Linked DNA regions of Homo sapiens: regions 1, 3 and 4 are each linked to region 2. The links come from fine-mapping of genetic effects on gene expression. A gene starts in region 2. Each other region holds a variant in brackets. All regions are shown on one strand. Distances are from middle to middle. Region 1 has its middle 70 kb from the start of C12orf71. Region 2 holds the start of TM7SF3 (transmembrane 7 superfamily member 3). Region 3 overlaps FGFR1OP2 (FGFR1 oncogene partner 2). Region 4 has its middle 16 kb from the start of C12orf71.

Region 1 (8,111 bases), 140 kb after region 2:
CTTCAATCTGGAAATGACAGAACAATCACCCTTTAAAATAAGGAAGTGCAATTCAGTGAAGACAGGTAAGATAGTAAGAGAGCATTTAGTTACATTTTAAAATGAAATCATTAATTTGAAAGGGTCATATATACCCATGGTAAGAATGTAAGCCAGAGCTGGCAGCATCTCTGTCCTACAGAGAAATCCTGTCCCTGGAGTAGGATTGAATGAAGCCAAGAAACTGAAAAAATTGCAGATGGGGCAAAGAAAGAGTCCTGGAGACTCAAGTCCATTAGATTGCAGGACCATTCGTGCCCTTTTAGATTTTTTTTTTTTTTCTCAACTGAGTTCCAATTGAGTTTTTTCTTTTAGTAAAAATGCCTGAAAAAAATAGTAAATTTATAGATGAGAATTCTTATGCTCAGAGGGGTAAAGCAACTCACCCAGGTTACAGGCAGGAAGCAGCAGAGCCAGGTTTCTAAGTGAGGTTTCTCTGAGCCACAAACGTGTTTCTCTTTCCATTTTTCCTCTATTGATCAGTAGTTTTCTATGAATCTGTTGTCTAATGAAAAGTACCTAGGTCCTCTAGGAGAATCCTCCTACTGTTATTGTTTCTAATTATCTGTTCATCTTTCAGTTAGAAGAACATCCATTCTTATATTGATGTCTTGTGGCAGAATGTGAATTTCTGCCTACAGTGCCCACAATGGCATCAAACCTATTATTATGTTCAGGTCAAGATTCAAACTCACAAAACTACCATAGACCTCTTTGGCATCAGATTCACTCAGAGAAACATGGGACAGGGCTGGGCGTGGTGGCTCGTACCTGTAATCCTAGCACTTTGGGAGGTCATGGAGGGCAGCTCACTTGAGGTTAGGAGTTCGAGACCAGCCTAACCAACACTGTGAATTTTTGTAAAAATACAAAAATCAGCTGTGCATAGTGGCAGGTGCCTGTAATTCCAGCTATCGGGGGCTGAGGTGGGAAGATCGTTTGAATCTGGGAGGTGGAGATTGCAGTGAGCCGAGATCGTGCCACTGCACTCCAGCCTTGGTGACAGAGTGAGACTGTCTCAAGACAAAAAAAAAAAAAAAGAAGAAGAAAGAAAGAAAGAAAAGAAAAACGAAAACATGAGACAGGAACCACAATTAACTACAGGTGGTGTCAGGTGTCCCTCCAAATTATGCAGCTGCCCAGAGACAACTCAAATGCATGAAGGTGTGATGCATATGAGGCAAGTGCAGGAACCACCCTGAATTAAGGTCTCATTCCCTACAGGAGCCAATATCACCTGTAACAAACTTCAGATGTGTCATTTCTGGCATCACTACACATACTCAATTAAAACAGTCAGCACATTCAAGGATGCTAGAAGCTACAATCTCCATCAGATATTTATGGTGCATTTATAGTTCCTCCCACTCCAGATGCAATTTCCAATCAGAGATCCTTTTTATTATAAGCAATGTTGCTGAGTAATACTGTTAACATAGTACTCTAATCTGGTTCTAGGGGAACAGAACTAGAATGTTAACTAAAGCTAAAATTCATACACAGCAGAGAAAAGATTTTGTTAACTCTTAACCCAAAATGCCCCACTGATAGCAGGTTTGGCTATATGGTTTGCTTTAACCAAGGGAATGCAAGAGGAGGTGACTTACACCACCTCCAAGCAGAAGGCTTGTGAGCCATTGCATGATTCCACTCTTATTCCTTTCCCTCTGCTGTGAGACAAGGGTAGGGGCAATACCTTCAGCTTAGGTCTCCAATGAAATGAAAAAGATATTTGGGGAAGAGCCATAGAACAAAGGTGTAATGGATCCTCAGTTGTTATGAAACCTCCAAGAGAGAGAAACATTAATTGCTGTAAGCCATCACTAGTCAGAGGACTGGTGTTTACTGCAGAATAACCTATTTCTGATTAGTACATCCCTTTTGGAAAGATATAGGCTGGGTTTATCATTCTCCTACCAGGAGTCCAACTAAGCCAGCTAGCCCTTCAGTATGTGACAGCCTTAATTCTGGCAAGAATCCCCAATTCGAGTCTGATGGAAAGTTGTTTCCTCTTATCGAGCAGTTTTGATGTTAGAACAGTCCAAGTAATGCCTGAAGAAAAATAATGTATATAGATTATGATGATTTATTGCTCTAATTTGTCTTCTCCTTTGTGTACTCAGGGTTCAGTCAAGAGACAGGAACTATGCAGAGTTACCTGAATACATATAATTTTTATTTTTTATATTTATTTATTGAGACAGAGTCTCATGTACTCTGTGGCCCAGGCTGGAGTGCAGTGGTGTGATCTTGGCTGACTACAATCTCTGCCTCTTGGGTTCAAGCAATTCTTCTGCCTCAGCCTCCAGAGTAGTTGGTACTACAGGCGCCCACCACCATGCCCAGCTAATTTTTGTATTTTTAGTAGAGATGGGGTTTTGCCATGTTGGCCAGGCTGGTCTGGAACCCCTGACCTCATGTGATTGGCCCACCTCAGCCTCCCAAAGTGTTGAGATTACAGGCGTGAGCCACTGCGCCCAACCAATAAATATAATTTAATATAAAGAATTGTCAACAGGCCAGACACTTGAACCCAGGGTGGGGAGGGTGGAGGTTGCAGTGAGCTGAGATTGAGCCACTGCACTCCATGCACTCCAGCCTGGGTGACAGAGTGAGACTGTCTTAAAAAAAAAAAAAAAGAATTGTCAATGAAATATAAAATTGTCAACCTGGTAACCAAAAAGGTGAAAAGAAAAATCTAAGATGTTACAGAGGTAGCAACTGCAGGGAACTCTTAATCGCCTCTAGGTCTGAGGGAACAAAAGTAAGAGGCTGGAATTCTTAAAATGTAGAAACTTAGAGGAGCAGCGGCATGAAGCTGAAACTCAGACATCTGAGGAGAAAGGTACTGCTCAGTTGGTGGTGTTGTCTCTGAGTTTGGAGGCAGTGTCTCTTGGAGCTGGGATCTGTCTCTGAAGAGGGGTTTGGTGCTGGTGTCTCTTGGTGGGGAGGTGGGGTGCAGTCCAGTTATTTCTGCAGGTGGTAGGGAAACTGAAAACTGGATCCAACTGCTGCTATGGTGAAGCAGAGTTAATAGGGTGCCAGTAGCAAGAACCACAAGCAAACAGGAAGCTCACAGGATGAAGTGTGTCCCTCCTTCCTCTTCCCACATTTCAGTCTCCCTCTAGCCCCCCTATCATCAGAGCTTAACAGAGAGCCAGCTAGCAAAGCTGAAATGGGGTGTGGAGAGACCCAGCAAACCTCACTGATCAGTGCACGGGGGCACCTGGCTAAGGCGTGAGTGAGGGCTGTGGTTCAACCTGTGCTCTCCTTGTCAAGCGCTAAGTCCTTGTGTGGGGCTATGTCAGCCAGGAGGAAGAGGCATCTTTTTCAAATTCACACAGAGGTGTCATGTAGGCTAGCATATGCACTGATGCAAGGATCATTAATAGTCTTCCTTCCATCTTCTAAATAGCTCTGAAGAGCATGTATCTTTTTTTTTTTTTTGATCCAGGGTCTCACTTTGTCACCCAGGCTGGAGTGCAGTGGTGCAATCATAGCTCACTGTAGCCTTGGCCTCCTGGACTCAAGCCATCCTCCCACCTCAGCCTCCTATATTCGGGAGCTGGGATCTCAGGCATGCACCACTATGCCCAGCTAATTTTTGTATTTTTTGTAGAGATGATGTCTCACTATGTTGCCCAGGCTGGTCTCAAGCTCCTGGGCTCAAGCCATCCACCTGCCTCAACATCCTAAAGTTCTGGAATTGCATGCGTGAGCTACCGAGCCTGGCTGAAAAGCATGTATTTTTATTGTAATATTCCAGACAAACTTACATGCAACCTTTTGCAATTTCATATATAGCCCTCCCTTATGTACCATCAAATATTTATACAGATTTGTTTGAATTGGTTTCTGCATTCTTCCACCGATTCTCTTGCTACTGGCACCGCGGGTGCCGTTTTTTATATGCAGTGTAGGTTTAGTTCTCTCCTTTCTCATATTCTGGACTTCCAACTATGCAACCATAATAAGTCTTTACTGCTTCCACTGGCCTCTTTCTTATTTTTCCTTCCGTTGTCTTCACTAGAGTTGTGTTAGGAAGCAACTTTGCTCTTGGTCCTTGTCCCTTAGGCAGCCTTAACATATTCTACAAAATGTTCAACATTTTCACTAATGATCTATATGAAGGCTTTGAAGAGATTATTTTTAAGTTTGTTGATGACACAAAAATAGGAGGGTTAGCTAAAATGAGATTCCTAATGATCTCCACAGACTGAAATGCTGTGTTGATAGCAAAAATATGAAATTTATGAGATAAGGGAAAAAGCCAGTAGAATTTAAAATAAAGATAAAAATTAGAGTAAAATAACTGAAATAAGACAAACCTCTATTTTTTTAACATAGTACCAATATGATTTATGTGATAGTTTTAGAAAAGAATCATGCCATTTTTGTAATAGCCACACAATAGCTACTCAGGGTTTACAGAATTTGATATTTGACAAAAATTTGAATCAAATAATAATC[C/T]AGAAATAGGCCAGGGGCGGTGGCTCATGCCTGTAATCCCAGCACTTTGGGAGGCCGAGGCCAGCAGATCACTTGAGGTCAGGAGTTCAAGACTAGCCTGGTGAACATGGCGAAACCTCATCTCTACTAAAAATACAAAAATTAGCTGGGCATGGTGGCGTGCCTGTAATTCCAGCTACTCGGGAGGCTGAGGCAGGAGAACTGCTTGAACCCAGGAGGCGGAGGTTGCGGTGAGCCAAGATCATGCCATTGCACTCCAGCCTGGGATGATAGAGCAAGGCTCCATCTCAAAAAAAAAAAAAAAAAATCCGTAAATAGATCATTAATTATAACCAAGAAAAAAGTGCTGTCATTTTTGCTTACTCAACTACTTCATGAAAATCCTGAGAAAACCCAGTAAATTATATAAAAATATAGTTATATGTAGGTATACAACAAAATATTAATGGTGGTTATCTCTGGTTCAGGATTGGTAAGTTTTTATTGTATTTTACTATTGAAAATCTTATTTTCTCTATAGGACATGTATTTGCTTTGTAATAAGAATAAACTTTAAAAAAATAAAAAGAGGCTTGGCACAGTGGCTCACGCCTATAATCTCAGCACTTTGGGAGGCCAAGGTTGGAGGATTGCTTGAGACCAAGAGTTCAAGACCAGCCTTAGGGACAAAACGAGACCCCATCCATACAAAAATTTTAAAAATTATCTGGGCATGAGGCATACACCTGTAATTCCAGGTGTTCAGAAGGCTGAGTCAGGAGGATTGCTTGAGCCCAGAAGTTCAAGGCTGCAGTGAGCTATGATTTGCACCACTGCACTCCAATCTGAGCGACAGTGAGACCCTGTTTCAAAATAAATAAAAGCAACAGATAAAAGCAACCAAGTAAAAAGGGATCAAATATATTTGGAGTTCTAGGGAAAGTCTGATATAAAAGTATTTTCTGGCTGGGCATGTGGCTCACACCCATAATCCCAGCACCTTGGGAGGCTAAGGCGGGCAGATCACTTGAGCTTAGGAGTTCAAGACCAGCCTGGGCAACATGGTGAAATCCCATCTCTACAAAAAATACAAAAAATTAGCCGGTTATGGTGGTGTGTGACTGTGGACCCAGCTACTCGGGAGGCTAAGGTGGGAGGATCGCCTAAGCCTGGGAGGTGGAGGCTGCAGTGAGCTGAGATCACACCACTGCACTCCAGCATGGGTGACAGAGTGAGACCCTGTCTCAAAAAATAAATTAAAAGTATCTTCTTCACAATGATTTTAAAATAGTACTAAAGCAACAAGTAGAAATAAAAATTATCTAAGTTGTTCCATTTAATGAAACATAAGTGAGTAGTAATTTGATATATAGTTACAGATTTCCAAAGAGGGTGAAAAAGAATAAATTGGAATCTGTAATAGCAATATTGTGGAATAGATTTGCAAATAAGAATCAATGAAACATCTTTTTATATAGAAAATATTTGAAAAAGATAATTTATTTGACAGAGAAACAAAATGGCGAAAAAATGCTGAGAATTTTTTTCACTCTTTTTCTTACTTAGATACATGGAAACAGCCAGGTAACAAAAAAGTACTCTGTATAATGCTTCGATGAGATATGCTAACCATTTTCTATGAGAAAAGAAGAAACACTTTTGGTCAGAAAATGGGTTCAGATGAAATTTTGTTCTGCTCACCTTTAGAATTAATAGTGTGGTTGGCTTCCTGCAATGTTTTTATGAAAGGAAATTAAATCTTAGGCTCAGCCTCATTTTGGTTCTTGATGCCTTGTTTTGTTTGCCCAGGGAAGCTCTCCCTGTCCCCTACTCTAAGTGAGGGTCCACTCTCTGAGACTGTTCTTTTTTTCAGAACATGAACCTCAGTTCATAATTCTGCCTCCGCTAATGTGATCATTTGATTCATACCTGAGTACCTCATTTGCCTATCAGCTCCATAAGTGTGTGAGCTGTGCCTGTTCATGCTCACCATACGTGGTATCCCTAGAGCCTAACCCAGTCACTGAAACATCGTAGGCACTCCATAAGTATTTGTGAATCAATACATAAATGGATGAATTAAAAATTTAAAAGTAAATAATTGGAATGGATTATGGAGACAGTAGAAAAAACTTAGTTAACTTTTTAGGTACTGTGAGAGAATATCTTTAAAATGTTTCTTGTGGATTTAGCAGAAGATAAAAGGGCAATAAATTTAAGGGGAACTGCATATGAGAAAGAATATGAAAAACTACCAATCTTCCAGAAAAAAAAAATCTGGTAATTTCCTTACATAGAGTAAAAGAGTTTTAGTACTTTCTATTCTGAGTTCTATTTGAATATTTTTCTCTTTTTATATGGTATAAGAGGGCTGTTTTCTTGAGTAAAATATTTTATTAACCTAATATCGTTGGTTAATCAAATGTCTTCATAGTGTAAGATTTGAAATAGAAAGCCACGTTGAGTCTTTCAATACATAGAGAAGCTAGATTACAAGAGAAAGAGGCTTTGCCTCACTTTTTTCTTTTTTTTAACCTCCTTGTAGTTTTCTGGGCTGTCTTTACAGATTTTTGGTTCATAGATTTTCTAAGTAAGATTTTTGACATATTATATATCTTTTATTCAATACTTCTAATAAGAAGAAAAAGATACCCTTTCCTCACCGTCTTACAACTTTGAAAAAAATACTGTAAGATTTCCACTGTGGTGTGAAAAGTTTTATTCACTCTAGAAAACTGGGTCATCTTCTTTTCAGAACCTTTTTTTCTAAATCTGAGAACAGATTTAAGGAAAGCAAAGCAGAAAGTTTTCAATAATCCAGTGGGAATTCCTCTTAGAAGCAAGAGAGCTAGAGAAGATGATTGCACAGACTTAGCAAGGTTAAAACGGGTATTTCTAATACGTGAAAAATGTGTGAGTTAGAAGGTTAACAGTTGATTCGACAAGTGGCAGAAATGGGTTTTTTTCAGTTCTGTTGGGGAACAAAAATCAGACGACATCCCTCAAATCTGTACATTTTAAACATATCAAATTATTAGTTTCCTGTTGTACTGTATTTTGGCTCTTAGGTTTATGATTCTTAGTATGAGAGAGGAAGGATAATCTTCAACATAGTTAAAAAAAGAAAAAAAAGGAGGAACACGCAAATATTTTGCTTAAGCCTGAGATGAGATTGGAAGAAACCAACAAGTCCGTTTGAGGATAAATAAAGTCACACTTGAAGAAGGGCAAAAATCAGAAGTGACCTAATAAAATCTCCCTAATAACAGTAATGGTAAGGTGATATTATATATAACTTTTCTCTCTGGCTCCTGGAAAATTTATCCAATCTAAGTAGTTATCTATCTTGCCTCACAAATAATCCCTTAAAACTTTTTATTTCTGTTACTTGCTAGATTCAAAAAACATAATTAAAAATTATTTTATCTGTAAAATATCTACCTCAGTTCTCAAATTTAGTATAATGAGTTGTTTTAAAAGTCAGATTACATAAGACAAACCAACACTACACTACTTCTCCACAACTAATGTACGATAAAAATGAGAACAAATGATTAAAATATATAAGCTGATAAATGCAAAATTGTTTAAAATACCTTTTATATCTTATGATATCTAAGGCA
Region 2 (8,111 bases):
CTTTCCGAATCAGATCCTAATCTGGCAACCATAAAAATTTCCAACTCTTCCTTTTTACTATTTTACTAAAATTTACTTCTACTGTTTGTGTTTCAACACAACAACCAAATTCTAAGAGAAATCCATCATAGCCTAGTCTTCATAATTCTCTTCACATTAAAAACAAAAATGGTTCAGCTACTTGAGTTGGTCAGCAGTCAACCGCCCCTCCCAATTTCTCATTGTTATCTTCTTACAAATGTTCAATAGCCCTAAAGGTTGAAAGGGAACACAAAAATGAACATATTAGCTTCACACACTTTTTAGAGAAAGACAGCACTTGCAACTAACCATGAACAGCCTGCTACCTTGGTAAAGCATCATCAATAGCAAGAAGACTGAAAGGCCCAAATGATGCTGTGCTCAAGTCCAATTACTATGAAATTCCACGGGAGTTACTGGATATGAATCTAAACAAATGAAAGATGTTAAAGGCAGCAGTGAACTGGGACTCCAAGAGAAGGGAAAACTGCTTAAAAGTATGATCCATCTCATGTGCCTACTGGTCACAGAAAGCACCCTCCTCAGACATTCTAGGAACTCCATCTGCCACGTTCCAAGATTTATTTAGCATTCAGGCCACTACAGAAGTCATGCAAGTTAGCTCATCCTGCCAAAGATGGGTAAATCCTCCTAAATTACAGCAGATGCTCAATTTCTTCAGTTTGTATGGTTATCAGAATTATCATCATCAAACATCAATCCAGCCATTTTCTAGGAGGATTATGCAAGTCCTGAACTATGTCCTTCTACCTTTCTATACTGATTTTTAGCTGATAGATGTGGAGAATATCAGCTTTTATTATCACTCAGCAGTTAAGTCCCCACATTGTCCCTCTTCTGCACAGAATGACAATACCAATGCAAGGCAAAAAGAATAACATTGAGGAATATCAGTGCTATAATCATAGCAAAGAGGCAAAAAGCAGTGTCTGAAAAAAATTAATTTCTCAATTTATTCATATTTTTTAACTTTTGTATAAAAATTTCTAGGTATTAAATACTAACACCAAGTAGAAAGAAAAAGTTCTGGACGCCTGCTCTCCTGACTCAGGGGCTGGCCTCGATCAACTAAAAACTCTAATATCTCAAATTCTTCACCTGTTAAAATAGAGATAGCATCTCTTCTACCTCCATCATAAGGCTATTTTGAAGAATGAGGATTCACAGAAGGATTAAGTACAAAGCACCATGCCATGTAAGATATTCTTATTGGAAGACAGCTTTACGGAAGTGGAAGGACTATGAAATTTGCAGGGAGACTCACCTGGGTTCAAGTCCTATCTGTAACCCTAGCAGCTGTTCATTTGTTCCTCTGACAAGGGAGGAAGATCATTACATTGTAGGGTGGTGGGGATTAAATAACACTGCACGTGGAAAGCACCTGGCACACACTATACAGAGTGAATGTTAGTGCCCTATTATAAGCAAGGTTTTTCTGCAAAAAAAAAAGTTGCCCTTTTCAGCTTTGGCCTCAGTCCTATATACAAAGATCCTAGAATTCAGTTTGCACAAGGGCTTTTCAAAGATAAGTGCATAGCAACACAATCACATTATTCAGAAAATATTATGTTTCAGAACTGCAACTAGTCTATTAACCTCAAAACAAAACAGAATGTGCTTAGTTTCATGGAAAAGCACATGATGATCTGCCTGGCACAACTAGTGCCTTTTACATTTTATATTAACAAACCATGAGCTGTTGCCCAAACCCATTCACCAAGCACAAGACTTACAATCTAACATCCCATTCTGAGTTCTCACTGAGATGAACAAGAATTACCTGAAATCGGCCGGGCGCGGTGGCTCATGCCTGTAATCCCAGCACTCTGGGAGGCCAAGGCGGGCAGATCACGAGGTCAGGAGTTCGAGACCAGCCTGAACAACATGGTGAAACCCCGCCTGTACTAAAAATACAAAAACTAGCTGGGTGTGGTGGCGGGCGCCTGTAATCCCAGCTACTCTGGAGGCTGAGGCAGGAGAATTGCTTGAACCCGGGTGTCGGAGGTTGCAGTCAGCCAAGATCATGCCACTGCACTCCAGCCTAGGCGACAGAGCGAGACTCCGTCAAAAAAAAAAAAAAAAAAAGTCACCTGAAATCATCAAAAATGGTGTACTCATAGGGAGCCAAGCCCGGGCATGTTGCTTCTTGGCTCCCACAGGTGAATTTGAAGTGGCAATAGAACTTCGTTGATTCTTGTTTTTCTCATTTTAGTTTTACTCTCTATTAAATTGTTATTTTTTACAGTTCATTTATGGATGACAAGTTATTTCCTGTTGGTAGCTGCAATGATTGGGAATTTTGTGATCTCTGTAAACGAATTAATATCTCATAGAGATCTATTTCCTGTTGGATATGAGACAACAGAGAACACAGTTTTTGTCCATTTGTCTTTTTTAAGGTCAAATCGATTAGAAATTTCTTGCCCTCAAGTAAGGAGAACAACTCTGATACCTGGACTGGCAAGCTTTTGTGTTTCTGTGTTTATTTTTCATTTGTGGCTGAACTTGTAGAATTGAGGGTATACACATTCTATCTGTATGTCTATGTATCTGTAATTCAGAAAGTCCTTTATTTCTCATTGTGAGTATGGAATGTTTTCCTGTCTCCAGATGGTATTAATAAATTAGATGGTAAAGGCTCTTTAAAAATAAAGCCTCATTATGGGTTCATTTTCCCTCTCAAACTCTGTAGAACATAACCAGTTTGAAAAGCCTCTAGATTTGGGGGTGTAAAAATTCCATGCAGCTTGAGAGCCATCAGTCATTAAGCCGCTAGTTCCACCCCAAGTCTTGCTGTCCAGAAGCTCAGACAGTCCACTGGGCAGCAAAGAGGCGCTTTAGTAAGTTGAATTAAAGCCACAAACATGGCTGCTCCCTAAGGGAGATAATACTGTGTTAAAAAAAGAGAATTATTTATCTCTTCCCATTTCCTCCGCTAAATGAGGAGGTTAATAGTAAGACCTCCTTAGCCATGAGTGTTTCCGCTGCAGGAAACACCATTCGTGCCGGTTCTGGACTCACCACCCAGCGTGTACCAACGCCCCCAGCACCATCTCCCTGCTAGGCTGACAGACCCCTGGCGGATTTTGACCTCGCAAGAAATGCAAAAGCAACTTTGGGTTGCAGAAGCCAGGCGCCCCGACCTTACCCTCGCTGGAATTCCCGAAGACCTCGGCTGCACCAGCCACCCGGTGTTCGGATGCCAGCACCGCTACGACCAGCAGCTGCAGGAACCCCATTGCTGCCTGGGCCGGGCTGGGCCCACGCCAGGGCTGGGGAGAGGTGCGGGCGTGCGCGCCGGGGCCCCGCAGCCTCGCCCACGCTATCCCGGGGCGCCCGCATCGGGCGCCATCGCCCGCCAGGTGCAGACGCTTCGCACCTGCCAGCTCCGCAGCCGCCGGCGCGCGCCCCGCCGAACTCCTAGCCCCAGCGAGAGGTTTCCTCTTCCGGCACCTGACCCCCAACGCGCGTTCCCGCGCCTCCTCCCGGGCTCTCGCTGCGTCACAGCGGCGGGTCTCTGGGCGCGGGCGGCGCTGGGGCGTTTCCAGGCAGCGCGCGCCTCCTGCCGGCGCGCGGGGAACGCGCAGCCTGCGGTGCTCCCGGGAGCCCCCAGGAAGTCCTGGCTTGAGGCCCGGTCTTGCCCCACTTTTATCTCACCAAGTAGGCAAACCCACTGTGAAAGTACAAAATAACTTTCTGTTGCGGACTAACGTCGCCAGGCTCCTGTTTCCGTGTTTAACGGCCCTTTACAACAGCAAAAAAGAGGAATCAGTTGCTAAAAACACAATTGAAGGTTATTTCCCCCGGTAGCAATTGTCTTCGCTGCTGAGGCTTATGTTAGCATAAAAATGCCAGGAGAATGCTGTTTGTGTAGTGGTTACCGCACTAGTCATAAGCACTACATTTAAAAGTAGTTTCGTTTTCTCTAAGCGAAATATCCTCGAAGACACGGCCTTGGTCTGAACTTCGTCTCAAGTCTCATACCTGAGTGCTGTTTGAGGGACAGTAGTCCATGTGACAGATGGCTCATCGATGATGTGGAATTAGACGCATAGACTTAACGTTATTTGGGGAGGATTGTCTTGCTTTCCTTCCCTGGTTTTAATTTTTTTCACTTATATATTTTGATGAGCAACTTATAGCTTGGAAATTACATGTTCAGTTAGTCCACTACTAAGCTAACAATATATAGCTGTGACCATAATGTGAAGAAGTGTTAAAGACAAAATTATTCAATGATACTTGTTAAAGCACCGAACGAAGACTATTGAGGACTGTCTCAATTGGCATAGGGACCACTGCAACTGGGTCTTGCAGTGGGGAAGAGGGACTGGGCTCAACTCCGAATACAGCGTGGGCAAGAGGGAATTTATAGCCAACCAGCAGTATGGAGTTCAGTGGATGGAAAATTACTAAGAGGAAGCATCAGAGGTAAGGGGCATTTGGTGAAACTGACCTAACAGGACTTCTGAAGACATAACATCACCTGGGGGATGGTGCAGGGTGAGAAAACTGATTAGATATGGAGGAAAGGGGGTTCTTTGCTAAAACTGGATTTTTACAAAGAAGTGCACAGATGGACCTAGCAGAAGATTCAGAAGCCGTACTAGAGTTTGGCCAAGCAAATAATCTTTGTCATAGGCACAATTCTTTCTCTGCTTTCCCACTGCCTGGTCCAAATTTTCACACCTTTGGTAGCACTATCTATTTCTGTAGTGCTTATTCACTCTCCCACATGCCCCTATTCCTATAACCCTCAGTAGATGAAATCCAAGGAAGATGAAAGGGACAATTATGATAAGGGTAGCATCTGAATCAGTGGATGGATTATTCAATAAATTGTGTTCTTAACTGATTAGCTGCACTATGGGCAGAGAGAAGCAGAACTCTATCTCACACTAATTGTGAAAACAAAATCCCAAAGTAATAAAACCATAAAAGAGCTAGCAGAAGAGGGCGCTCTTTTTTTTTTTTAATAAATTGATCTCAAAATGGGAGGAGCTTTCTAAGAAGCAAAACAGCAAAGGAAACAACCATAAAGGAAAAGATTGGTAGACTTGGCTACGTAAATGCTTTTTACATAAATATTTAAATTTTATTAAAGTAAACACACAAACAATATGAAAAGGCAAGTTGACCAAAAAAAAAAAATTAGCAAAGGACATGAATGGGGAATTTCACCCCAAAAAAGAAATACAAATTACCAGTAAATACATGAAAAAAGTTCAATCTCACTAGTAAACAAATAAAAAAATCAAATTAACAAACTAAGATGTAAACATTTTAAAAGTATAAAACATCCAGTGTGGATAAAAGAGCTAAGAAGGAGGCATTCTTAGGTAGGGATACTGGGAATATACACTTTAATAAAGTAATCGGCATCAAAAATGTTTAAAAATCTTATTTTTGTAGATTTGGTATAATCCACTTTTAGATTTAAGTACATAATTAAATACACATATAAAAATTAGTATAAGCTGGGGGAAGTGGTATGCGCCTGTAGTCCCAGATACTCAGGGGGCTGAGGCAGGAGGATTACTTGAGCCCAGGAGTTCAAGAGGGCAGTGCTGTATGATTGCACCTGTGAATAGCCACTGCCCTCCAGCCTGGGCAACATAGTGAGACCCCATCTCTTAAAAAAAAATAGTGTACAGAACTATTCATAGAGTATTATTTAGAGTAGCAGAAACATCTAAAACAACCTAAATGCCCAACAATTAGGAGTTAAATAACCTATGATAGAGCTTTATAAGAGGATCCTGTGCAGCCCTTCATTTATATTCTGATTGAAGTCTTTATGAAAAGGCAAGTTATGATGCAATAAGTATATATAGTACGTGGCTTTTTTTTTTTTTTAACATACATCTTTTATTGACTCAGAGGAATGGATACTTTTGTTGTTTGTTTGTTTTTTTAAATGGAGTCTTGTTCTGTCCCCCAGGCTAGAGTGCAGTGGTGCAATCTTGGCTCACTGCAACCTCTGCCTCCCGGGTTCAAGCAATTCTCCTGCCTCCGCCTCCCAAGTAGCTGGGATTACAGGCACACACCACCATGCCCGGCTAATTTTTGTATTTTTTTTTAGTAGAGATGGGGTTTCACCACGTTGGCCAGGCTGGTTTGGAAATCCTGACCTTGTGATCTGCCCACCTCGGCCTCCTGAAGTGCTGGGATTACAGGCGTGAGCCACCACACCCGGCCTGTAATTTTTTTTTAAGAGACAAGATCTCACTATGTTACCCAGGCTGGCCTTAAACTCCCAGATGTAAGAATTAAAGAAGAAAGAAACAGGAAAGGTGGCTTAGAAGTCAAGGACAAGTTTATTTTAGAGAAAACAAACCTGAAAGGGGCTTCTGGCCAGTTAGGTTAGAGGCACACTCTCTTACGGACTAATAAGAGTTTTTAAGGATTTAGGGTGGGAGAGTTTATCAGAGGCTTGGACTGCTTCTGTGTCTGTTGTGCTTATCTGGGAGGGAGAGTTGTGTGTCTGTTCCCATACATCTTTTTGCAGCTGCAGGCATACCCCCGAGTCTGCTTTTAGCTTCCCTATCTTAGTGCACCTGAAGGGAAAGGAATGTACTTACTAAGGCCCACTGTTTTACTGGGGCCCATTGTATGAGGGTGAAGTTTGGCAGTTACCCAAGAGAATTTCCCCCCACCTCCCTTTGTGCCTGAGCTGTCTTATCTGTGTTTTACTGTCTGCTCTTTCTGGCTGCTTATAGTTAGAAGAGAAGTGATTTCCTTGAAATGCATGAGGCTAGAAAGGGAGCTGGAACTTAAAGTGGCGGTGTTTGTCCGAGATGACGGTGCTCCTGGTCTGTCACCAGACTCAAGCAATCCTGCCACCTCAGCCTCCAGACTAACTGGGACTACTACAGGCTCACACCACTGTGCCTGCCTTGTTTTCTTTGTAGTATGCATTCCTGGTTATGTACATAGAAAAAAAGGTTGAAAAATATATGCCAAAATGTTTAAAATAGTTATCTTTAGGTGGTTAAATTAAGAATGATTTCCTTTGCACATTTCTGTGTAAAAGTTCTACATTGAAGTGTATCATTTTTAAATAAGAAATTATGATTTTGTAAAAGATACATATAATTTTAAAGGTTTTCTTATAAAAGCATTCAAGATATAAGTCCACCTTCCTGAGTATGACACATAAATGCTTTTTGTGATGCAACTCCTGCTCACCTCCCTAGGTTCTTGCTGCAACTAAAATCAGACCTCTACATGCTGGCCACATTGAATTAATTTCAATTTCCTGAACTGAGCCTATTCTCTCTCCTCCATACCTTTGCATCGCAGTTCCCCAGGCCTGCAGTTGCCTGTGCATGCATGACAGTTGATGACAAATGTGTCAGCAATCAGAACAGGGCCTCATTACCTTGGCTTCTAAGTACAGTATTGTGACAGCTTGGGAGGATGATTGGCTGGGGTTCCATGCTCATGTCAGAGTTCCATTGGAGAGCTGAGAAGCAAACAAGCTTAGCAGCTTTGCAGATTAGTTCATTTTTCCTATGTATTGAAAGGAAATGCAGAAACTGAAAGATTCCCAAATCCAAGATATGCATCATTAGAGGCTTAAAGTCTGTTTAGGCCAGGCGCAGTGGCTCATACCTGTAATCCCAGTACTTTAGCAGACCAAGGCAGGAGGATCTCTGGAGACCAGGAGTTCAAGATCAGCCCAGGCAACATAGTGAGATCCCCATTCTTACACACACACATACACACACACACACACACAACCAGAAAAAAAAATTAGCTGGGCATGGTGGGGCACATCTGTAGTCCTAGATACACAGGTGGCTGAGGCTGGAGAATTGTTCGAGCCTAGGAGTTTGAGTTTGCAGCGAGCCATGATTATGCCACTGTACTCCAGCCTGGGTGACAGAGCAAGACCCTGTATCTAATAAAACAAAAGTCTGTTAAAATTTAGAAGAGGAAGGAAGGGCAGGAGGGAGAGAAGGAGGAAGGGAAAAAACTTACCCTAGCTTTTTAAATAAAACCTAAAATACCTTAAATGGAGCTGGGAGTGGGGATCCAGGGAAAAGGCAGGATTGAACCTCTGTGAA
Region 3 (8,111 bases), 68 kb before region 2:
AGGCAAATAGGTGAAGCAATTTTAAAGAAGAAAACAGTGACTTATACATATTAGATAGGGAGAGTTTATTTTACAGCTGTTACATTTGAGGCAATGTGGTATTGATGCAGAAATAGATAGTCATTTTAAGAGGACAGGTTTCATGATGGTTCTAATTGCATTTCTCTAATGGCTAATGATGTTGAACATCTTTTCATGTTTCTTATTTGTCCATATCTTTTTGGTTCACTAGTAAAGTCTTTTATTCATTTTTATTTGGGTTATTTTCTTATTGTTTTGAGAGACTTTTTTGTATTCTAGATACAAGTCCTTAGTTGGATAAGTGATTTGAAATATTTTCTCCCAGCCTGTAGCTTGTCTTTTCAAACTCTCTAAACAGTGTCTTTCCCAGAGCAAAAGTTTGTGATTTTGATGAGGTCCAGTTTATCAAATTTTTCTTTTATGAATCATGCTTTTAGTATCATGTTTACAAAAACCTTTGCCTAACCCCAGGTCACAAAGATTTTCTCTTATTTTTTTCCTGAAAGTGTTATTGTTTTTAATTTTATATTTAGACTTATGGTCCATTTTGAGTTAATTTTTGTATTAAGTGTAGGAATTATGTTGGGATTAAACTTTTGGCATATAGATGTCCAGTTCTTCCAACACCATTTGTTGAAAAAAGCCAACCTTTCTCCTTTGACTTGCCTTTGCACCTTTTTCAAAAATCCATTGGCCATTTTTGTATGGCCCTGTCTCTAAACCTTTTCTGTTTCTATCAGCTCTATGCCACCTTGATTGAAGTAGCTTTATAGTAAGTCTTAAACTTTGGTAGTGTGAAAAAAACTGAAAACAAATAGTTTCTTCAACTTTTTTTGTTTTCATAGTTGTTTTGTTGTTATCTAGTTTCTTTGCATTTCCAAGCTAATTTTAGAATTAGCTTGTCAATTTCTCTAAAAAAATCTTGCTGGGACTTTGACTGGAAATTGCACTGTTTGTACAACAGTTACAGAAAACTTGACATTTCGGCTGGGTGCAGTGGCTCACACCTGTAATCCCAGCACTTTGGGAAGTCAAGGCAGGAGGATCACTTGAGGTCAGGAGTTCGAGTCCATCCTGGCCAACATGACGAAACCCCATCTCTACTAAAAATACAAAAATTAGCTGGGCGTGGTGGCGCACGCTTGTAATCTCAGCTACTCTGGAGGCTGAGGCAAGAGAATCGCTTGAACCCAGGAGGCGGAGGTTCCAGTGAGCCAAGATCGTACCGCTGCACTCCAGCAGCCTGGGCGACAGACTAAGACTCTGTCTCAAAAAAAAGAAAAAGAAAACTTCCCTACTATGTTGAGTCTTCCAGTCCATGAACACAGTATGTTTCTCCATTCTTTTAGATCCTCTTTAGTTTCTTTCATTAGCATTTTGTAGTTATCAGCAAACAAATTTTGCATATGTTTTAATTTGTGCCCAGGAATCTCAGGGTTTGTTTTTTGTGTTTTTTTGTTGTTGTTGTTTTGTTTTGTTTTGCTATTGTAAATGTGTGTTTTAAAAAAAAAAGTTTTGGTTTCCATTTGTTTGTTGCCAGTATATAGAAAAACAGTTGATTCTTATGCTTGTATCCTGTGACATTGCTAAAATCATGTAGTAGTTTTAGGAGTTCTTTTTTGGATTCTTTGGGGTTTTCTACATAGACAACAATGTTGGTTGTGAAAAGGGGCCGTTTTATTTCTTCTTTTCCAGCCTGTATGGTTTTTCCCCCCTTCCTAGCCTTATTACACCAATGTATTGAACAGGACTGGTGACTGCAGACATCCTTCCCTTGTTCCTAATTTTATTGGGAAAGCAGTCAGTCATTCATTATGAAGTATGACGTTTGCTGTAAGTTTTCTGAAAATGCCCTTTCTCAGTTTAAAAAAATCCTCTTCTAGCTTGCAGAAAATTTTTATTATGAAAGTATGCGGAATTTTTTAATAATATGCCAGTTGGTATGCATAAGTGATTTTCTTCTTCAGTGGATTACATTGGAGACAGCCTTGAATCTGGGATAAACTCCCATTGGTCAGGGTATATTACTCTCATTATGAGTTGCTGAATTTGAGTTACTAATATTTCCTTAAGGATTTTTTATTTATGTTAATGAAGGATATTAGTCTGTGGTTTTCTTGTATTCTCTTTGGTTTTGGTATCAGTAATACTGACATCAGTTTATGAGATTAAAATTACAAGTATTTCCTTTTCTATTATTTTTTTAAGAGATTGTATAATAATTGGTGTTATTTCTTCTTTAAATGTGTGATAGAATTTGTCCTTGAAGCCATCCAGGTCTGGAGATTTTTTGCAGAAGATTTCTAATTACAAATTCAGTTTCTTAAAATAATTATAATAGGATTATTCATAGTTGTCTGTTTCATCTTGTGTGACTTTATGTAGTTTGTGTTTTTTGAGGAATTAGTCCATTTCATTTAAATTATCCAATTCATGTGTATGGAATTTATTATTGTGTTCACTTATCCTTTTAAGGAATTAGAGGTCTGTAGTGATGTCTCATCTTTCCTGATATCCCTTCTTTCCATTAGTAATTTATGTCTGCTGACTTTTTTTCTTGGTTAATTTTTCAGGAGGTTTTTCAATTTTTATTTTTTTCCAAGGACTGGCTTTTTATTTCATTAGGTTTTCTCTGTTGCTTTCTTGTTCTCAATTTCGTTGATTTCTACTCTTTATTATTTCTTTCTATTTACTTTAGGTTTATTTTGCTCTTCTTCTCCAGGTTCCTAAAGGTTGAGGCTTACATAATTGATTTGAGATCTTTCTAATTTTCTAATATAAACATTTAATGCTATAAATTTGCTTCAAAGTAGAGTTTTACATACATGCCAAAATTTTTGATATTTTGTATTTTCATGTTTATTTAGATCAAAGTATCTTCTAATTTCCAGAAACTTCCTTTTTGACTTATTATATAGAAGTACATTGTTTAACTTCCAGATGTTTGGAGATTTTTCTTGTTATCTCTTAATTACTTACTTTAGTTTAATTTCATTATAATCAGAGAGCATAATTTGTACTGGCTAGGCGTGGTGGCTCACGCCTGTAATACCAGCACTTTGGGAGGCCTAGGCGGGCAGATCACCTGAGGTCAGGCGTTCAGGACCAGCCTGGCCAACGTGGTGAAACCGCATCTCTACTAAAAATACAAAAATTAGCCGGACATGGTGGCATGAGCCTGTAATCCCAGCCACTCGGGAGGCTGAGGCAGGAGAACCGCTTGAACCCAGGAGGCAGAGGTTGCAGTGAGCCGAGAATGTGCCATCGCACTCCAGCCTGGGCAACAAGAGTGAAACTCCGTCTCAAAAAAAAAAAAAAAAAAGCATAATTT[G/A]TATGATTACAGTTCTCTTAAATTTGTTAAGGTTTGTTTTGTGATCCAGGATGTGATCTATCCTCATGAATATCTTGAGCACTTAAAAAGAATGTGTACTCTGCTGTTGTTGGTTGTAGCATTTCATAAATATCAATTCAAGCCAGTTAGTGGATGCTGTTCATTTTGCCTATATTGCTGATTTTTGTGTACAAAGTCTGCCAGTTACTGAGAAAGGAATGTTTAATTTTTCAGCAGTAAGGGTGGATATGCCTATATATCCCTTCAGTTGTTTGAGTTAGTGCATTTGTATTTTGAAGCTCTTTAATTATAGTTGTATATACATTTAGGATGCTTATGTCTTCTTGGTGATTGGGCATTTTATCATCATGTAATGTTCCTCTGTCCCTGGTAATTTTCTTTTCTCTGAAGTTTACTTTGTCTGATATTTATTTATTTTTTGAGGCAAGTCTCACTTTGTTGCCCAGGCTAAAGTTTAGTGGCGTGATTGTGGCTCACTGCAGCCTCAACCTCCTGGGCTTAGGTGATCCTCCTACCTCCACCTCCCAGCTAGCTGCGACTGCAGGTGTGTACCACCACGCCCGGTTAATTTTTTGTATTTTTAGTAGAGGTGGGGTTTGGCCATGTTTCCCAGGCTGTTCTGGAACCCCTGGCTTCATGATCTGCCAGCCTTGGCCTCCCAAAGTGCTGGGATTATATGGGCGTGGGCCACTGCGCCTGACCTTGTCTGATATTATATAGCCACTCTAGCTCTTTTCTTAAATATAACACCTTTATTGAGATATGTAATTCACATACCATACTATTCACCTATTTAAAGTGTACACTTTTAGGGTTTTCAGTATATTCAGAGTTGTGTAACCATCAACAAAATTGATTTTAGAACATTTTTCCCGCGCAAAAAGAAACCGTATGTTCATTAACAGTCACTTCCCATTCCTCCTTCCTTTTCCTAATCCCTCAGTCCTAGACATCCACTAATCTACTTTCAGCCTCTGTGGATTTGCCTCTTTTGGACACTATATAAATGGCGTGATACATTGTCTTTGTGACTGACTTCTTTCACTGAGCATAATTTTTTCAGTTTTCATCCATGTTGTAGCCTGTTTCAGGGCATCATTCCCCCCTACTTTTTTTTTTTTGCCAGATATTCCACTGTATGAACACATCATATTTACTCATTTATCAGTTGAATAATATTGCTGTGAACATTCATGTACAGTTTTTTGCATTGACATACTTTCATTTTCCTGGTATGTACCTAGGAGTGGAATTGTTGGATCACATGTTTAACCTTTTGAAGAACTGTCAGACTTTTCCAAAGTGGCTATACCATTTCACATTCTTTATATCCTAGCCAACACTTACTATCTTTTCTATTATAGCCATCCTAGTAGGTATATCTCATTGTGGTTTTGAATTGCATTTCAGTGATGGCTAGTTATGTTGAGCATGTTTTCATGTTCTTATTAGCCCTCTGGTTTTCTTTTGACTAATATTTGTACAGTATATCCTCTTTTCCATCCTTTTAACTTTTTTTTTGGAGGCAGGGTCACACTTTGTCACCCAGGCAGGAGTGCAGTGGCACAGCCAGGGTTGACTGCGCCCTCACCGTTCCGAGTAGCTGGGACTACAGGCATGTGCCACCACACCCAGCTAATTTTTAAATTTTTTGTAGAGACAGGGTTTTGCCATGTTGCCCAGGCTGGTCTTGAATTCCTGGGCTCAAGCAATCCTCCGATTTTGGCCTCTTAAGGTGCTGGGATTACAGGTGTGAGCCACTATGCCCGGCCTGTCCTTTTACTTTTAACCTACCCATATCATATTTAAAGTGAATTTTATATAAACAATGCATAGTTGGGTCCTCTTTTAAAATTCTGATCATCTGTCTTAATCTTATCTAAATATAAATGTCGAGGACATTTATATTTAGTGAAATTATTAACATGTTTGGATTTAGTTCTGCCATCTTATCATTTGTTTTCTTTTTGTTCCTTTGATATTCCTTTGTTTTGCCTTTTCTCTGTCTTTTGGGTTATTGAACACTTTTTAATTCATTTCAATTAATCTATTGTAGTTTTGACTATTATCTCTGTGCAGTTATTTTAGGGATTTATTAGGAATTACAATATATGTAAATTTTTAAGTCTACTTAAAATTGATATTTTTACAACTTCAAGTGAAATGTAGAAATCTGATCAATGTATAGGCCTTTTTAGCCTCCTCCCTTTTTCTTGTAGTTATATATTTGCCTGCATAAATTAAAAATCTCATTAGATAAATGTTATAATTCTTGTTTTTAAACATTAGACATTTAAAAGAACTAAGAGGAAAATAATTACCCAGATATTTACAATTTCAGTTGGTCTTCCTTTGTTCCTGATGTTCTAAGTTTCCTTCTGATAACACTTTGCTTCTAACTGAAGAGTATTCTTTATAATAAGTCTACTGGAAATAAGTTCTTCTTTCTCTTCAGCTGAGAATGACTTTTATTTCACCTTCATATATGAAACATATTTTTGCTGGATATAGAATTTTGGGTTGATAGGTCTGTTCTTTCAGCATTTTGAAAGTGTTGTTCTACTTTTTACTGGCCTTCATTTCTGTTGGGAAGCCTACAGTCATTCAAATTGTTCTCTATGAGTAATATGTCATTTTTCTCTGGCTGCTTTCAAGATTTTCTCTTTGTCTTTAGTTTTTGGAAATGTGACTACAACGTGTCTGGAGTTAGATCTTGTTGGAAACTCCTGCCTGGGGTTTCCTGAGGACTGGGAATGATGAAGACAAGGTTTCTTAGAAGGAAGCAAAGTGTTACATCATCGAAATGTATAAGTTTCAACTATTGAAGTTAAATATGTTTTTATATTATTGGATGACAAGTTAGAATGCGCTTGGGAGAATACACAAAATACAGTATTTTAGTCATTGTGAATATTGTGTCTTTTCGGTAGGGGACTCTTCTAAGGTATTCATAACGTAAACATACTAGAATATTTAAGAATATTGCCTGGCATGGTGGCATGCACCTATATAGTCTCAGCTACTCAGGAGACTGAAGTGGAGGGTCTTTGGAGTCCAGGAGTTCCAGCCTGGGTGATGGCAAGACCTCGCCTCTAAAAATAACTAAACTTAAAAAAATAATAATAAATATTTCTAAACCATGGAGAGAGGCAACTCCATAAAATCTTCTTAGAGATGTTCAGAAAGTTGTTCAGGAATGGTTTTAGTCGTTGATTCACCATTACAGTTTTTCTTTTTCATTTTGAGATGGAGTTTCGCTTTTGTTGCCCAGGCTAGAGTGCAATGGCGCGATCTCAGCTCACTGCAACCTCCACCTCCCAGGTACAAGCGATTCTCCTGTCTTGGCCTCCCAAGTAGCTCAGATTACAGGCTTGCACCACCACGCCCTGCTAATTTTTTTGTATTTAGTAGAGATGGGGTTTCATCATGTTAGGCTGGTCGCGAACTCCTGACCTCAGGTGATCCACCCACCTCAGCCTCCCAAAGTGCTGGGATTACAGGTGTGCACCACCACACCTGGCCTACAGTTTTTCCAGATTAATTTATTTACAAATGAAGCATGAATTAACCAGTATCCTATGCTATCCAAGGTAAGTTTTCCCATTCGTGTTTAATATTGTGGCCATTTTTTTCTACTTAAATGAAATGTTTCATGGAGTAGTATCTGTTTGAGGTTTTTTTTGTTTGAGACAGAGTTTTGCTCTTGTTGCCCAGGCTGGAGTGCAATGATGCGATCTTGGCTCGCTGCAACCTCTGCCTCCCGGGTTCAAGCGATTCTCCTGTCTCAGCTTCCCGAGTAGCTGGGATTACAGGCGCATGCCACCACACCCAGCTAATTTTTGTATTTTTAGTAGAGATGAGGTTTCATCATTATTGGTCAGGCTGGTCTCGAACTCCTGACCTCAGGTGATCCACCTGCCTCAGCCTCCCAAAGTACTGGGATTACAGGAGTGAGCCACCGTGCCTGGCCCTGTTTGAGGTGTTATGTGGTACTATCAAGTAGCCATTCTGATTATGTCAGTTTTTATCTTCATGGATCTTACAACTTGATGGTCACAATGGTTCTTTTGAAATTTGACAGGCCAAATTTTGTGTATCTATCATGGAGTCTTTTAACTTCTTCATGGGTTTATTTTACAGTTTCATATGAGGCTTTTGCATAAGGACATTTAGTCAAAGCATCCCGCTTATAGTAACGAACTTTAAGGTATTTCTATGGTATCTACAATATTGTTTCTACCTTTATGATAGCAGTTATATTAGGCAGCTACCATCAAGCCATCAAGTAGTTAATGTATTCGTTGTTTTTTTTTTTTTTTTTTTTTTTTTTGAGACAGAGTCCCGTTCTGTCACCCAGGCTGGAGGTGCAGTGGCACAATCTCGGCTCACTGCAAGCTCCGCCTCCCGGGTTCACGCTATTCTCCTGCCTCAGCCTCCTGCGTAGCTGAGACTACAGGCGCATGCCACTACGCCCGGCTAATTTTTTTTTTGTATTTTTAGTAGAGACGGAGTTTCACTGTGTTAGCCAGGATGGTCTCGATCTCCTGACCTCGTGATCCACCCGCCTCGGCCTCCCAAAGTGCTGGGATTACAGGCGTGAGCCACCGCACCTGCCCTGTATTCATTGTTTTTAAAAGGATATCTGAGAAACCTCTTTTCTTTGCAGCATTTCAGAGAAGTGGATTATTCTAAAAGCATATCACCTATTCATGTATATATTTACTTTCAGTAAGTTGCT
Region 4 (8,111 bases), 84 kb after region 2:
AGGTGTTTAAAGCCACTGCTCTTCACGGAGATAATCCTAGATGAATATCCCAGGGGTATCCATAGAGAAGAGGGTGAATGTGACACTTGCAGATGACATTTTAATTAAGATTAAAACTGACAAATGGCCCCAGTCTATTGCTTTTTGAAAACAAGGTCTTGGGAAAGAACCACTACTTGTCCTTGGAGAGCCTGGGCGAATTAGAAAATGGTGCCCCTCCAGGTGAATGCAGCCCCCAAGCTGCATGGATTGGATTTCAGCGTCTGTGCACCCAGGGTGAGACACTCTGTGAAGGACATGACCTGCACAGCCAGAATGGTGACCTCCTCTGGAGATCTCAGTCAGTTTGCTTCCAAATTAAAACAAGTTTGGAAGCAAATTTGGCTAGGATGACATTGTATATTTACCTTTCCAAGCCAGCATGGTTCTGTCTATGATGCTAGTTCTGTAGCTATTTTTCAGAGTTGAAGACCAGGTGTGATTTACAACCTAGAGTGTCTCTAGCTGCTGGCATCTAAGTTTGGCACTGAGCACTTAAAGTGCCCAGACCATGATGTTTTACTGTGTGGAGGAAGGCCTCGTTGGAGAGGCACAATGTTTTTTCATCTGACATGTTTGCTCTTGTGGAAATGGCTTGAAGTATTTGAGTGCTGGCAGCAGAAAACATGGGAGGAGACTTAATTCTTGCTGAGTATGAATGATCCTATACAAATTAAAACTGATCACTTTTAAAGGCCGTATAAAACTATTCATCAATCATTAGATTGCTTTGATGTATATATCATATATCTGTGTGTCTCTACCAGGATCCTAGCATGAACCTCTCCCTGAACAAACACTGAATAAATATTGCTATGATTTTGCTTATACTTTTGTCATTGACTTAGAGACAGTTTTGTTTCTTGTTTTTAACTCTGTGTTGAATATGAGTTCAGTTAGTTTTCTGTTTTTTATGTTTATGGAAGTACCTCAATTTTACTAATGGTGAGGCGGGGAATATAGGAAAGTATGAAAAACAACCACACATGCACAATTGCTTTGTAATTTCAAACTCTAATGGACACTCTCTGGAGGTGATTGCCATATCTCTCAGTAGGAACAGAATTTGAATCTGGGAGCAAGTAATCAGTCTGTAAATGTTTGTTATGATACTGGAATTGCCAAATATGCTGTATCTAATTGAATTTCATTACTGGGGCATGAAAGGCAGTTGGCTGAATGTTGTCACTGAAAAGAATATATTGTGGACAGCAGATTGTTGCCTATATAGTGCTTGTATAAAAACCCTATATCCAAATAAGGTCACATTCTGAGGTTCTGGGGCTTAGGATTTCAACATATAAATTTTGGAAGGACACAATTAAACCCATCACACCATCCATAGTTGAACCTCAACACAAATTAGCCTCAGAAATCAAGCTGTATTTATTTTGTGTTTTTTTAGCTATGCTTATTTTGGAATTGTATATAAACTGAACCTATTTCCATAAAGTAGTTGAATTTTATTCCTTTTTTCCAGACCCAATAGACCTCATGGTATTAGTTCTGCAGTCAACATTGTGCTTGCTCTCTCTCGCTCTCTGACTCTCTGACTCTATCTTGCTCTCTCTCTCTCTCTCATGTTTCATGAGTCATTAGGCCAAAAAGTATTAGGTAAATGAAAGCAAATATGACAGCAGCTCCTTGAACAAGGGGACCACTTCTTTCCCCCTCAAGTCCATGACCTGTAACATGTCTAACATTCCAGTTCTGAGGATTTTAAAAGTAGTTAGTTGATCTGTAGTGTGTTTTCACTTGACATCTTGCTTTAGTTACGCCATTCTTGCATATCCCTCATTTTCCACATTAGCCTCGTTTAGTTGTGCAGTTTTGACATTCACAGCTCTCCAGTGCTTTGGATTGAATGTTTATACCAAGAAATTGCAGCTGGCTTTTCTAGCAGGTCATTCTGATGTTGTCCAGGGATGCCATCAGAGGTGCAGGTTCTTGAAGCACCTTTTATACTATCTTCCTTTTCTACTCTGGGCCTTTCCCAGTTTCTGGGAGGTCAAGGCATCTGCCAAGCCTCTCTCTCTGCAGCCCACTGACATCAGGCATACTTGTATGCTCCATCTGTACTTTATTGCTTTTTGTTTGTCTGTTTGTTTGTTTGTTTGTTTGTTTTGAGACGGGGTCTCACTCTGTCACCCAGGCTGAAGTGCAATGGTGCAATCACAGCTCACTGCAGCCTCGACCTCCCAGACTCAAGTGATCCTCCAACCTCAGCCTCCTGAGTAGCTGGGACTACAGATGTGTGTCACCACACCCAGCTAATTTTTGTTTGTTTTAATAGAGATAAGGTCTCACTATGTTGCCTGGCTGGTCTTGAACTCCTGGGCTTAAGCGATCCTCCTGCCTCTGCCTCCAAAAGTGCTGGGATTACAGGTGTAAGCCATGGCGCCCAGCTCCACCTGTACTTCAAAACTCACCCTACTCCCTGTTCCCGAAGCATGTCACGTGCTAATGTGACTGGTATGTACCCTCTTAGCTTCTGGGCCCTGAAATACAACCCATATTTTGTTCCCCCTATCCTAAGAGATCAGGTGGAATGGAAGATTGTCTCCCTTTTTATTAAATGAGTCAAATTTTGTCTCTCCTCAAGTATATTCCAAAATATCAGTAACCTGTTAATAAAACGGCTTATCCCTTCAGAAAACAGAATTTAGGGTGGGTTAGATAATACACATAATCATCATCATCATCATCATCATCATCATCCATACCTCTCTAAGCCTGTAGCAGGGTGGAATAGCATGAGCTATTGATTGTATCTGAGCAGAGGAATGCTTGGTACCCCATATCTCTAGAAGAAATTAGGTGGCTTGAGAGGCTCTTTTAGGTCTGAATAATTTCAGTGCCAAAGACCAAAACCTCTTCATAAACTGCAGTTAGACTCTCCCTGATTGCCATGCCTGGCTTTCTGTTGGAGAAAATCCTAGAGGAAAACAGAAACTCCCAAGGAGCTGGGTAGCCAAGAGAGGAGCCCAGACCTTCCATCTTCCATCTGGTGACCTGATGGTTCTGGCATTTGACTTCTCTGAAGATAAGAAACCCTGGGTATTACACATAAATTCCAATATCTGAATTGACAAAAGTACTCTCTCCAGGGTAGATATGCTATCAGAGCTTAGATGTAAGGATGTTTTAAAAATTTCATTCACAGAGCTGAAGTGTCAGGCCCAGCAATATTTCTTTGGCCCTTGACGTCAGTCCTGTGAGCTAGCTCTCCAGCACTAGGGACTATTCTTGTGTTTAGTTTTACCTCCTCTTTCTTGGGGTAGATCACAATCAAATAGCTCCCAGTTCCTTCCTTTGGGAAGACAATGACCTTGCCTTCCCCACACACATCCATAAAGCACTACTCCTTGGACTCCACACCCCAGGTCCAGAATAGTCAGGGTGGCTACTCTAGGACTAATCTCTCTTCCTATCTCCTGGTAAAATGGTTTTAGTAGATATTTGTCCCTAGCAGCTGTTAGTTTCCCCTCTCATCACTATATTAAGACATCCTTGGCCATGCATGGTGGCTCATGCCTGTAATCGCAGCACTTTGGGAGGCTGAGATGGGAGGATCACTTGAGCCCACAAGTTCAAGAGCAGCCTGGGCAACATAGGGAGACCTTGTCTCTACCCAAAATAAAAATATTAGCCGAGTGTAGTGGTACATACCTGTGATTCCAGCTACTTGGGAAGCTGAGGCAGGAAGATCACTTAAGCCCGGGAGGTTGAGGCTACAGTGAGCCATGATTAGGCCAC[C/T]GCACTCCATCCAGCCTGTGTGACAGAATGAGACTTTAAAAAGGAAAGAATAAAAAACCTTCTAGCCCAAGAATTCTTTAACTTTTTGCTTACACATTTGGGCCTTCCTTATTTTTCATAAGGAAAAATAAATTTTAATACTCTATTACTCTTTAATAGAGGGCAGGAATTGAAGCATCCTGAGATGAAGATAATTCAAAGACATCCAATACAGATGGCATAAATAGCAAAACTTTGAAAAGTATATTGTTCCCCAGCCTTGTTTTTAGGCTCAAATAAACACCCCATTAAGTAGAATGTATACCCTGATCACTTAGAATACTCAAGTTTCGAGGTGCCACTTAAAAATAAGGCAGATGCTGTACTTAGCTAGGGAAAAGGTATGTCTCTGGCAGGTGGGATCCCTTCACCAGGTCCATGAGATGGACTTAATTGGAAGCAAATACAGAATTGGAGATGGTCAATCAAACGGAAGCTCCTCAGTTCCTAGATCAGTTTCTGGTACATGGTAAGTGGGTAAATGGTAGGTAAATGAGATATACTCCTTGAGTAAAGTAGGTAGGTAGGTAGGTAAATGAGAAATACTCTTTGAATAAAGAGTAGGCAAATGAGAAATACTCTTTGGTAGGTAAATGAGAAATACTCTGTGAATAAAGTACAGTTGTCCCTTGGTATCCATGGAAGATTTTTTCTAGGCTCTCCTGAGGATCCCAAAATCAATAGAGGCTCAAGTTCCTTATATAAAATGATGTAGTATTGGCATATAACCTACATACATCCTACTATATACATTAAGTCATCTCTAGATTACTTAGAATACCTACCACAATGCACATGCTATGTAAATAGTTGCTATACTGTATTTTAAAATTTGTATTTGTTTTTCTTTGAATATTTTAAATTTGTGGTTGGTTAAATTCATGGATATGAAATCTGTGGATATGGAGGGCTGACTATACATATATATATATAATTATGTATATGAGTAAATGTATGAATTTATTCATGTCACTTTGGAGCACTAGTCATGAGACAGTAAAATGTGGAAAATCCTGACTATATTGGTCTTTTGGTAGCCCTGCCCATGTCACTCAACATGTAGCTGTGGTAAAAGCAAGTTTTCAAGTTCCTGTCAAGACAGTTCAACACATTTCCTCTCTTCTGCTTCTCTGCCTCCCTCATTCCCTCTCTTCTTAAAGTTATGGGTTGTCAGAACTTTTATTGAAATGAAAACAAAATCTAAGTTGATACTCTAAGACATGAAAGAGTCAGAGTCTAACAAGTCCATTAATATTCTATTCTTTCCTCTGCAGTACTGCAAAGCATGTTTGGTGGTGATAAAGGAATAGTTTTGTTTTGATGGATACAAATAGTTATTATTTATTTCATGATCACCATGGTAAGTGTAAACCAAAAATAAAATTCCAACCACCTGAATGGACCCCTCCTCTCGGCCAAGGGCATTCCAAAGTTAACCCGAAAAACTAGTTTAGGCCATGATGGGAAGGGGGAGCCCAACATTACTCATTATTCCCTCCTCCTTTTTGGAATTACTGATAGAATAATCTTTTAAAGTCTGATAAGAAACATTGACAGTCTATTCTCTGAAGCTTCCTACCTGGAGGCTTCATCTGCATGATAAAACCTTGGTCTCCACAACCTCTCATCTTAACCCAGACATTCCTTTTTATTGATTCTAAGTCTTTAGATAATAACAACTTTTTTAACCCATTACCAATCAGAAATTCACTGAATCTACCTATGATCTGGAACTAACCACCCTAGTTGTGCTCCCTTTCTGGACTGAACCAATGTAGATCTTATATGTATTGATTGATGCCTTATGTTTCCCTAAAATTTATAAAAGCAAGTTGTAGCCTGACCACCTTGGGCACATGTTCTCAGGATCTCCTGAGGGCTGTGTCATGGGCTATTTGTCACTCATATTTGGCTCAGAATAAATCTTTTCAAGATATTTTACTGAGTTTCACCCTTTTCATTGCCATAGATCTGGTATAGAAATTTTAAGAATGGGTCCTTAGTCCTTAAAAAGCTTGATTTAGTACAGGCAACACTCCAAGGACCTGGTTAGGCAAGACTGCTTGCCAGAGACATACTTTTTCCTTAGCCAAATATAACATCTATTAGAGATAACCCGTGGTTCCATATGGTACTTGGTAACAGAGGCTGAGAGAGAATGGGTGTGGGGAGAGACAACAAGTGCTATAGGAGTACTTGATGATGTGGTAATCTTCCTTGAGTATTCTGCCATGACATTCAGTTTTTATATATAAGATCCAGGCACAGTTGTCACTGGGTATTCATGGGGGGTTGGTTCCAGGACCTCCCACAGATACCAAAATCCAGAGATGCTCAATTCCCTGATATAAAATGGCATTGCATTTGCCTAAAACCTTGGAATCTCCTCCTGTATACTTTATATCCTCACTAGATTACTTATAACACCTAATACAATATAAATGCTATGTAAATCTTTGTCGTATTGTTTAGGGAATAATGACAAGAAAAAGTCTGTACCTGTTTAGTCACAGACGCAATTTTTTTTCAAATATTTTCTATTCATGGTTGTTTGAATCCACTGATGGGGCACCTATGGATATGGAGGGCTGGCTGTATTTCATCAAATTTCAGTGTAAAGGATGGCAGGGTAATGACTCACCTAGATGATACTTTTATAGTTCCTCCTGTTTCCTTCCTTTGGTGGATGAAGGAAATGCTGTCATACTCAGAAGTTGAGAGTGGGCAGTTACTTGCCTCAGTAAATGGCCACTCCATCCTCCTATGGCTTAGGCCATAGTCTTGAGTTCATCTTTTCTCCCAAATGCTCTATCAAGTTCTGTTAGCGTTTATAACAAAAATATACACAAGGCAATAGAAACGTTGCTATCTTGTTAGGGGTATGTTCATTTGTCAGAATGCATCAAACTGTGCAGCAAAGAGCTGTGCATTTTACTCTCTAAATTATAACTTAATTCATATGTGTAATGCATCCTAATATGTATGGTAATATACATTTTATATTCAGAATATATATATAGCAATATGCATTTTATGTATGTATATATACATATTTACTATATGTGTATTCACACATACGTACATAGCTAGTGTCCAATCACCATCTCTACTGCTCACACCCTGACCCGAGCCACCAACAGAACCTCTCATCTGAATTGTTGTAGTCATTTTTTGACTGTTCTTGTTTTTATCTTTGCCACACCTGCAGTGTGTTCTTAGAAATGATTCTTCTTCTTTTTTTTTTTTCTTTTTTTTGAGATGGAGTCTCGCTCTGTCGCCCAGGCTGGAGTGCAGTGGCGCGATCTCGGCCCACTGCAAGCTCTGCCTCCCGGGTTCACACCATTCTCCTGCCTCAGCCTCCCGAGTAGCTGGGACTACAGGCGCCTGCCACCACGCCGGCTAATTTTTTTTGTATTTTTAGTAGAGATGGGATTTCACTGTGTTAGCCAGGATGGTTTCCATCTCCCGACCTCGTGATCCGCTTGCCTCGGCCTCCCAAAGTGCTGGGATTACAGGCGTGAGCCACTGCACCCGGCCAGGAATGATTCTTCATAAAACAGAAATCAGATCATGTCATTCCTTGGCTCAGAACCCTCCAGTGGCCTTCCATCTCCATGCTCAATTGAAGTCAAAGCCTGGCTGCCATGGCTTGTGAGGCCCCAGATCCCACTACCGCACCACTCCCACCACACCTTCTGTGCCTCTGGGACCACATTCCCTACTAACCCCCCGGCTCACCACCTTCCAGCCCACTGACCTCAAACATCAACTACATGAAGCTCCCCCTCCTCGGGGCCTTTGCACTTACTGTTGTTTCTCCCTGGAATCTCTTCCCAGATATTCCTGTGACTTTCTCCCCTCACCTTCTTCAAGGTTTTAATCAATGTCACTTTACCAATGGGGCCCTCCCTGATTATCAGATCAAAACTTCTAAGTCCCTGCCATTCCCTTTCTGCACGAAGAGCTGGCACAGTATATAATTAAGCGGACATGCTCTGCTGCCAGACTGTCTGACTTCACATCATTTTTCTAGCTGTGTGACTTGGTGCCTCAGTTTGATCACTAATAAAGTGGGGATAAGTATCGTGTCATTAGGGTTATTGTAAAGATTAATTGAATTGATATATGAAAAGCACTAAAAAACAGTGCCCGGTACATAGTAAGCTAATGTTAATGTTATTCCTCTTGCTTGCTTCATTATTTTTCCCATAGCACTTATCAATCACCCTCTCATCTGCTATGTATTTAAACTATTTTTTGTGGTTTCTTGCCATTAG

What was found.
Region 1: its variant is fine-mapped to the expression of TM7SF3 in atrial appendage (GTEx, PIP above 0.99).
Region 3: its variant is fine-mapped to the expression of TM7SF3 in whole blood (TOPMed, PIP above 0.99).
Region 4: its variant is fine-mapped to the expression of TM7SF3 in atrial appendage (GTEx, PIP above 0.99).

Annotation. Positions count from the first base shown.
Region 1 is chr12:27,148,540-27,156,650 of GRCh38, forward strand. It overlaps the pseudogene LOC124902904. Among named protein-coding and RNA genes, the nearest start is that of C12orf71, 70 kb to the left of the region's middle. The variant C/T (reference allele first, on the strand shown) is at 4,510.
Region 2 is chr12:27,010,888-27,018,998 of GRCh38, forward strand. TM7SF3 (transmembrane 7 superfamily member 3) reads right to left here and starts at 3,497. Exons shown (of 12, transcript NM_016551.3): 1 at 3,191-3,497. The coding sequence starts at 3,281. RefSeq lists a silencer at 3,190-3,689.
Region 3 is chr12:26,942,537-26,950,647 of GRCh38, forward strand. All of the region lies in intron 1 of FGFR1OP2 (FGFR1 oncogene partner 2), which reads left to right. Among named protein-coding and RNA genes, the nearest start is that of FGFR1OP2, 8.1 kb to the left of the region's middle. The variant G/A (reference allele first, on the strand shown) is at 3,353.
Region 4 is chr12:27,094,990-27,103,100 of GRCh38, forward strand. It overlaps the pseudogene LOC124902904. Among named protein-coding and RNA genes, the nearest start is that of C12orf71, 16 kb to the left of the region's middle. The variant C/T (reference allele first, on the strand shown) is at 3,796.